Regions from separate parts of the Homo sapiens genome. Here region 1 is linked to region 2. The links come from fine-mapping of genetic effects on gene expression. A gene starts in region 2. The other region holds a variant in brackets. All regions are shown on one strand. Distances are between the middles of the regions.

Region 1 (4,536 bases), 25 kb before region 2:
ATGAGAGAAGAAAGAAGGAATTGAGATAAACTTGCCCAATTTTTGCTTCCCAAATTTACCAGACAAGCCACTCCTCCTCTAGAAAGAAATGAGAGGGTAGAGAGAGACTAGGAGTTAAACTAATTGAGCTCCTTTAACATAGGAGGAAACGTCAAGAATGAGAAAGATATATTCCCTGTGTATTAATTTCCTACTGCTGCTATAAAAAATGATCACAAACTTAGTAACTTACAACAAAATTAATTTACTGTCTTCCCATTCTGGAGGTCAGAGTCCTAAAATAAAGTTGTCAGACGGCTGCATTTCTTCTGGAGGCTACAAAGGAGAATCCATTTCATTGTCTTTTATAGCTTTTAGAAGCCACTTACATTTCCTGGCATGTGGTCCCCCTTCCTCCATCTTTAAGGCCAGCAGCATAGCATCTTCTAATCTTTCTCTAATTCTATATGTCATCACATTGTCTTATCTTCTTCTGACCTTTCTGCCTTCCCCTTAAGAAGACCTATGTGATTATATTGGACACACCTAAATAATCCAGGATAATATCCCCATCTCAATATCCTTAACTTAATTACATCTTCAAAGTCTCTTTGAACACAGTCTCTTGCAACAGAAAGTAACATATTCATAGGTTTCAGGAATTAGGACATGGACATCTTTGGAAGGCCATTATTCTACTACAGCCTCTATCAGTTTTCACTCTTATTTAGCAAAAGGATAGGCTCAAGTAATTTCTTCATAAAAGATACTTGAGGCCCGGCATGGTGGCTCATACCTGTAATCCCAGCATTTTGGGAGGCCAAGGCGGGTGAATTACTTGAGGCCAGGAGTTCAAGACCAGCCTGGCAAACATGGTGAAACCCTGTTTCTACTAAAAATATACAAATAAGCTGGGCGTGGTGGCAGGCACCTGTAATCCCAGCTACTTGGGAGGCTGAGGCAGAAGAATCACTTGAACCCGGGAAGCGGAGGCTGAAGTAAGCCAAGATCACGCCATTGCACTCAAGCCTGGGCAACAGAGCAAGAATCTGTCTTAAAAAAAAAAAAAAGGAATACTTTATTCCTTTTTACACTATACAGTATTTAAATTTTCAGCTGTGTCCTGGATTTGGAATTCAAATCTTAAGTAAAATAAAACAAATCAATAATCTCTTTAGAGGTAGATTTGTATTCACTTATAACGTCTCATTACTATGACATCACTGAAAAGCAAGTGGAACTGATATTAATGTGCACACTGAAGCACTGAAATCCTCTTGAGAAAAATAATCTGTGAAGACTTTTGACTTAATATAACACTAGTGTTTGATGCAATTAAGAAAATATATTAGTCAAACCTGCTGTTTAACATAGTAGTCCTGCTTACTCTGGCTCCTAAGCCATGAGTTTTCTTACGAACACAATCAACATTCCTCAGAGTGACGGTTTATAAATAATTCAACTTTGGAAGGGGGGAACTGGTAGGAAATGCTCAAAAATGTCGGCAATGGTTTTCTCTGCAGTGGGATCATGGATGACAGTTTACTGTAGTTTCTGATAGTTTTCTGCAGCAAATTTGCTACAATTAACATGTATAACTATTATTTGAATAACTATTATTATTATAAAAATGTTTTCTTATCAAGACCAGTTATACTTTTACCCTTTTTGGTTTTTCTTTCTTTCTTTTTTTTTTAGACAAGATCTTGCTCTGTTGCCTAGGCTGGAGTGCAGCAGTGCCATTATGCTCTGACCTCCCAAGCTCAAGTGATCCACACGTGCATGCCATCACACTTGGCTAATTTTTTTTTCTTTTTTTTGTAGAGATCCTAAGACTGTGCCCTCACCCCCACTAGACCAGAGACTGGTTGCAAGTCAGGGTCTCCAGAACTTCTGACCCACCAGCTTCAAGTGGGGGGTTCCCAAGACTCCTTTTTGGGCTCGATTAATTTGCCAGAGTGGTTCACAGAACTCAGGGAAACACTCAGAGTCTCAAGGCAGGTCAAAGGAGGGCAGAAGGTCAGAGGCCTGTCCCTGAAGCCTAACACACCCAACACTGTAACAAGACTGTAATGAGAGCTACGGAAGTTAGGAACCAGCAAATGTTGATAAAAAATAACACCACACTATCCAACACTTGCAAGCCCTTATCCAAAAGTGA[GTCAT/G]TCATTCATTCATTCATTCATTGTTAAATATATATTAAGTGCTTATAGTTTTATGTAGCAATCTTACCTGAAATGTGACTAATAATCAGTAAGTGCATATAAAAATATCTGAGAAGTTAAAATAGTTATTACAAGACTATATATTAAATCACATGAACTTTATTTGTAAGGGAGCTGGTCTCCCCCTCTCCTGCTAACAATCGAACACCTAATTAATAACAGAAATAGGATTGAAATTCTGATGTGCTGGGTACCATGAGTGAAATTTCCTTTGAACTGTATGTTGAAGAAAAACAGATTTTAACAGCAGGAGGCAAGGAAATACTATTCCAAATACAGGCTGAAGAAGAGAAAGGCAGATTGATGGTACAGATTGTAGAGACCTGTTTAGCAGAGAGACTAAACACAGAGAGTTCAGAACAATCTCTCCATATTCCAGACATAATCTAATAAAAGCCTGGACCAAGCCATTAGTGTAAGAATGGCTATAAAGGCAGATATCTACAGAACTTGGTAAATAATGATTAAGCAGTTTTGCCCCAGAAAAATAAGGGCAATTAGAAGAAGCAGTTCTCTAAGTGGGAAGGTTACACATTTCATCTGTGACATCTTGAATCTGAAATGATCAAGAACATCAGAGTTTTCCAAAATTTCCAACAGGTAATTAAAACTGTAGTAATAAAAAATTGTTTCAAGCTTGGGTCTCTAGTCAGACTGTCTAGGTTTGAACCTAAGAACTTTTTTTTATTAGCTGTGGGACCTCGTGCAAGTTACATTAATCTCTCTTTTAGTTTCCTCATCAGTAAAATACGAATAATGAAGTAAATGGATTGTTATAAGAATTAAATGAGAAATATATGTAAAGTGCTTGGAATAGAAATTGCTGGCACTTAAGAATTCATGTTATATTTTTTCATTTTACTTTTTATCAGAGCTTAGAATGAAATATTATATGGGAATTATATATATATATAGTTAAGCAGTGAGAACAAATGAGACCTTCAATAAAATAGAAAGGGTGGTAAACAAAAAGATACAGGCACTTGTATGTTCACTGCAGCATTAGTCTCAATAGCAAAAACATGGAATCAACCTAGATACACATCAACAGTGGGCTGGATAAAGAAAATGTGATACATATACACCATGGAATACTATGCAGCCATAAAAAAGAACAAAATCATGTCCTTTGCAGCAATACGGATGCAGCTGGAGGCCATTTTCCTAAGCAAATTAATGCAGGAACAGAAAATCAAATGCCACATGTTTTCATTTTTAAGTGGGAACTAAACATTGAGTACACATGGACATAAAGATGGGAATAGTAGACACTGGGGACTACTGGAGTGGGGAGAAGGGAGGAGGTGTTGAGATTAGCCACCATGCCCGGCTAATTTTTGTATTTTTAACAGAGATGGGGTTTCGCCATGTTGGGCAGGCTGGTCTCGAACTCCTGACCTCAGGTGATCCACCTGCCTCGGTCTGCCAAAGTGCTAGGATTACAGGCGTGAGCCACCGCGCCCAGCCAAACAGCATATTTTTAAACTTTTGGTTGACTATGTGAAAGTGCCAACATTAGGCCATTTTTTACCTATAAAAACAGCAATTGCATGGGACTCAATCTAATAAAAGGAACCGAAACAAGTTTACTGAAGTGATCTAACTCATTTCAGAAGAAAGTCATCTGTGGGCAAATGATCTCCCTAACCAAGAACATGTCCCAGCTCAATTCAGAGATCTGAGCTGACTGGCAAACTATGGCCTGCTGGCAAATTAGTCTTTAGCTGCTTTCTTGCTACAAAGGCAGTTAGGTACATCCAGCAAATTGCACAGCCCACAAAGCAAAAAATTATTTACTATTTGGCCATTTACAGAAAAAGTCTGCAGACCCCTGATCTCAGCCATGGTTCTAAAATATAGTCTGAAAAGTCATAAATCTCTTTAAGTTGTATTATTGTAATAAGACAATGTCTAGTCTTTGTATACATACATATATATTTTGTGTGTGTACAGATATATATAGTCATGCACCGCATAATGACATTTTAGCCAGTGATGGACCATATATACAACAGTGGTCCCATAAAATTATAACGGAGCAGAGATCTGGCAAAATGGCCGAATAGGAACAGCTCTGGTCTGCAGCTCCCAGGGAGACAAACGCAGAAGGCAGGTGATTTCTGCATTGCCAACTGAGGTACCCAGTTCATCTCACTGGGACTGGTTAGGCAGTGGGTACAGCCCACGGAGGGCAAGCAGAAGCAGGGTGGGGCGTTGCCTCATCCAGGAAGTGCAAGGAGCTGGGGCCCTCCCTCCCCCAGCCAAGGGAAGCCACGAGGGACTGTGCTGTCTGGCCCAGATACTATGCTTTTCTCACAGTTTTTGCAATCCG
Region 2 (4,000 bases):
AAATCTACTTCGAACGAGGAAATCTTTCCAGTTACAGATATATTTAAAACTCACATATCCCATCTGTTGTTGTTAAAGAATATAAAAAGAATAAAATTTTAAAGGAAGCGCAGTGAGTACTGAAAAAGCTAAAGTATAAAAGTACAGAAAAAATGTAAATATAGAATCACACAATGAAATCACCAAGTTTGGCAGTATAGTAGAACAAGACAGTATATTATCTATTTTGTATCTAATATTTTGATATCTGGTCCTAGTTCCATAACTGGTATAAACTTTGTTTTATATTTTTATGATATTTATAATAAAAATATGGCATCCTACTTTTTCCACCAGTTCTCATATTTGCAATTTTTCCTCTTTGGACTGGCTGATCTCTGAGCACCCTTCTAACTCTAAAATTAAACTGGTAATTAGAACACTGCCTTCCACATAGCTGTTTCAACGACTAGATAAACAATCATTTTGAACTATTAAATAAAGAGATTTCAAAGAATACTGGGTATGATAGGCACAGATAACAAATACTAAACGATTTAAAATTTTGGTCACATAAAAATACATACATACCATTCGGAGATGTTTACTCGGCCAGTAAATGTATAATTAACTCCTACTAAAGGATGAGGCACCTGTGGCTATTCCATAAATACTGATGTGAAGATGATTAAAGTAATATCGTCTTACAGTACGTCGCCTGAGTCAGAACCAAATAAATCAATACATAAATACTTTTGGGAAAAATCAAAACCATGGAAAAATGTTACCTTCCCAACAATCTATTTTACAGAGACCCATAGTTTATAACAGCTTTTATGCTGTGTGCATCAAGATCATCTATTACACGAAAAATGATTCCACCCCCTCTACTGGCAACGCCCCAGCATCGCGGGTGAGCTGCCAGGATGGACTCCCCGCTTTCCCCTCTCCGTCTTCCTTAGAGCATCAGGTATCTGACCACTGACATCACCTGGGCACCTGACCAGCTGACGCGCGTTTCCAGGAGCCATATCTGTGCCGTGGGGTCGGGTTGCCGGCCTAAGGAGCAGGATCTGTGCGCGGAGCCCCTCGCGGGCCCGTGCATTCTGCAGTTCAGCTCAAACTGCACATTTACTATGTTTTGTTTTTATCCATCGGTTGCCAATTAGTTTCTAAGGAAGACATTCCCATTACAAAATAATAGCGAAATAAAAATAAGCACCACGTTAAAAAGAGGTCAGCAGGGAAGCACCTGAAGGCTGTTCGGGTGATCCGCCGCCGCCTCTATTAGGAGCGACCTCCACCGCCGAGGGAAATCACCCAAACGAGCCCCAGGCTGCCGCGCTCCTTCACTACAGCGAGCGTGGCCGGGAGGCGCCCTTCCGCCGCAGGGGACCCAGCCACGCCAGAAACCGCTCCTTGCGGGTTTTGCCTGGGGGGAGGCCGGAAGAACCCCGAGCAGGGCCTCGCCTGGAAGAAGGCCGCAGGCAGCGGCCGGGGTCCCCCAGAGAACCGAGGAGGCCAGCAAGGCCCCGAGAAGCCGCGCGCGCGCGCGTGTGGCCGGAGCCTCCCGCCGCGCCCCCGCCTCCCGGCGTCGCCATGGGAACCCGGGATTTGGTCTCCGGGCCTGACCGCCGCCTGAGGGGGAATAGGGGCGGACAGGAGGCAGCAGAAGCTTACCGGCGCCGCTCTTCCGCCTCCTCGGGTCGCGTTCGGCCGTACGGTGATCCGTCCCGGCACCCGTTCCGGCCACCGCCCGCGAGCCCCGCGCCGACTCCCGGCCCTCCGGCAGCCAGTGCCCCTCCGCACCAGTGCGTGGAGGTGTCAGGCTCCCGCTGCGGGAGGCGGGAGATTTAAACCGCGCGACCTGGCGTCCGCGTTCGCCCCCCTCGGGCGCCGGCCTGACCCCGCCACCGGCCCGACTCGGGATCGGAGCATCTCTCGGTCTGCTCTTGAATGAACTCGGGGACCCTCTCTATTCCTCCTTTCCCGATTTCCTCTTTACTTAATAAAGTGAAATGACAAACACCAAACCGGTCAGAACATTACGAGGAGCTGAGTGTGAGCTCTCTGAGGCGTGGGGAAGTGGAAGGCATTGGCCCGGGGCCCTCCCGGCTCCCTCCGAGCACCCCCACCCCCGGACCTGCCGGGCCTTCTGGGGCGGCCCCTTAGCACCAGTGCTCCTTAGGCGGAAAGCGTTCGCCCGCTGTATTTAACTCCCGTGTTAAAGGTTTAAAGAGGTCTAAGTTAACAACCGTTCATAACCAATCTCAAATGCACATATCCATATCCATAATGTTTATGATGAATCTTCAAGAGTAAAAGGTAAAACCGGATCCTGAAAGTCTCAGGAAAAAAACAAAAAGGAAGGCAAAACTATTTACTACTAGTAGGAGATAATTTAATAAATTCAAACTTCATTCTTTTTAAAGGTGACTCCAAAACTTAAAAGAACTTTCCTAAAACAGCAGAATACGAATTATTAATTACAACTGCGACACATAGGCTAGCAAAGAATTAAAAGGTTAACACTCGAGGTGATAATTAAAATCTGTATGATGACAAAGATGGGGTGAGTCTAGAATTTATTTTATTTTATTTTATTTGAGACGGAGTCTCGCTCTGTCGCCCAGGCCGGAGTACAGTGGCGCGATCTCGGCTCACTGCAAGCTCCGCCTCCCGGGTTCACGCCATTCTCCTGCCTCAGCCTCCCGAATAGCTGGGACTACAGGCGCCTGCCACCACGCCTGGCTAAGTTTTTTGTATTTTTAGTAGAGTCGGGGTTTCACCGTGTTAGCCAGGATGGTCTCGATCTCCTGACCTCGTGATCCGCCCGCCTCGGCCTCCCAAAGTGCTGAGATTACAGGCATGAGCCACCGCGCCCGGCCGAGGTTCTGGAATATTAACAGTACAAAATACTCACCTTAACCTGGAAATTATACTTTTAGAATAGGAAAAGTGGCAAGCTACAGAGGGTTAATTTGGACTGAAAACATTAAATGTCTTTAGACTTTTACCCTGAGATATTTGGATTTCAAGGAATAGGCAAATACCTGAGATTATGTGCAAAATTTTGTTTGTTTTTTTGAGGAGTCTACAGCTTTCCTCAGAAGGGTAAAAATTAGCGTTTGGCAAACATGAGTGATTGACCTATTTCCTTGGGATGGCTTTCCTGAATCTTACCAAATGAGGCATTTCTCCTAAGGGGCATACTGCTCTCTGGCTGTAACGATCTACCTGCCTGTCTTCCCCATTAGGTGCCGAGCTGCTTCAAAGCTGCTCCTCCCTTACGCATTTCTGCAGCCTTAGCACCTAGCACAGTGCCTAATACAAACTAGGTCCTGAATGAATGTTGAATCCATCAATGAACGAAATGAAACAAAGATAGCTAATTCACAACTGAAGGATACATTATAAAATATCTGAAAAGAACAGATTATCTTTCTCACCAAGGAATAAATAAAGTGGCAAGCGAAATGACTTTCAAATGTTACTATGCCCCATAGTAAAGTTCTTGGGGTATTTTAGAAAATGTTTGTTCCAACAAGATGAAGTTTTAAGTCAAGAGAACAGTAAACTAATATCTTCTTCAGCTCAATCTGAGGCCGACTAAAGTCCTCCAAGGAACACACCTGGAAGTCAGAATAATGGCTACCGGCCGGGCCTGTTGCTTTTATTCACTTAACTGGGTAAAATTACAGAAAGATACACAGTATCTCCAAGCCATTAATGAAGTGTAGTATTTACACTTCATATAATCACTTTTTCTTCACAAGTCGCTAAGGAAACACGGTGGCACAGTGTAGGAATAGTATCAGAAAATAATGTAGAGCTAGCTGCTGATGCTTCTCCTGGACAGGAGTCAAGTCTCTCATATTTCATAAATGCCTGTGGAATGAATTCTTTCTTTAGCTGTTGGATACAATGTTTAAATGGCTTGCACTAGGAAGAGCGTGGTAGTTCAAGCCTATAATCCCAGCACTTTGGGAGACTGAGGCAAGCGGAGCACTTGTGGTCAGGA

Direction of the effects. Alleles are on the strand shown, and positions count from the first base shown. SD is a standard deviation of normalised expression in the study named.
In carriers of allele G in region 1, the expression in caudate of the gene that starts at base 1,807 in region 2 tends to be lower than with GTCAT alone (small effect, 0.20 SD a copy in GTEx).

The links. PIP is the estimated chance that this variant, and not a neighbour inherited with it, causes the effect.
Region 1: its variant is the best candidate, but not a certain one, in a credible set for the expression of ICA1L in caudate (GTEx, PIP 0.88).

The regions. Positions count from the first base shown.
Region 1 is chr2:202,844,592-202,849,127 of GRCh38, forward strand. All of the region lies in intron 1 of ICA1L (islet cell autoantigen 1 like), which reads right to left. Among named protein-coding and RNA genes, the nearest start is that of ICA1L, 25 kb to the right of the region's middle. The variant GTCAT/G (reference allele first, on the strand shown) is at 2,141.
Region 2 is chr2:202,869,960-202,873,959 of GRCh38, forward strand. It overlaps ICA1L (islet cell autoantigen 1 like), which reads right to left and starts at 1,807. Exons shown (of 13, transcript NM_001288622.3): 1 at 1,660-1,807. RefSeq lists silencers at 1,350-1,839, 1,880-1,929, 1,990-2,119.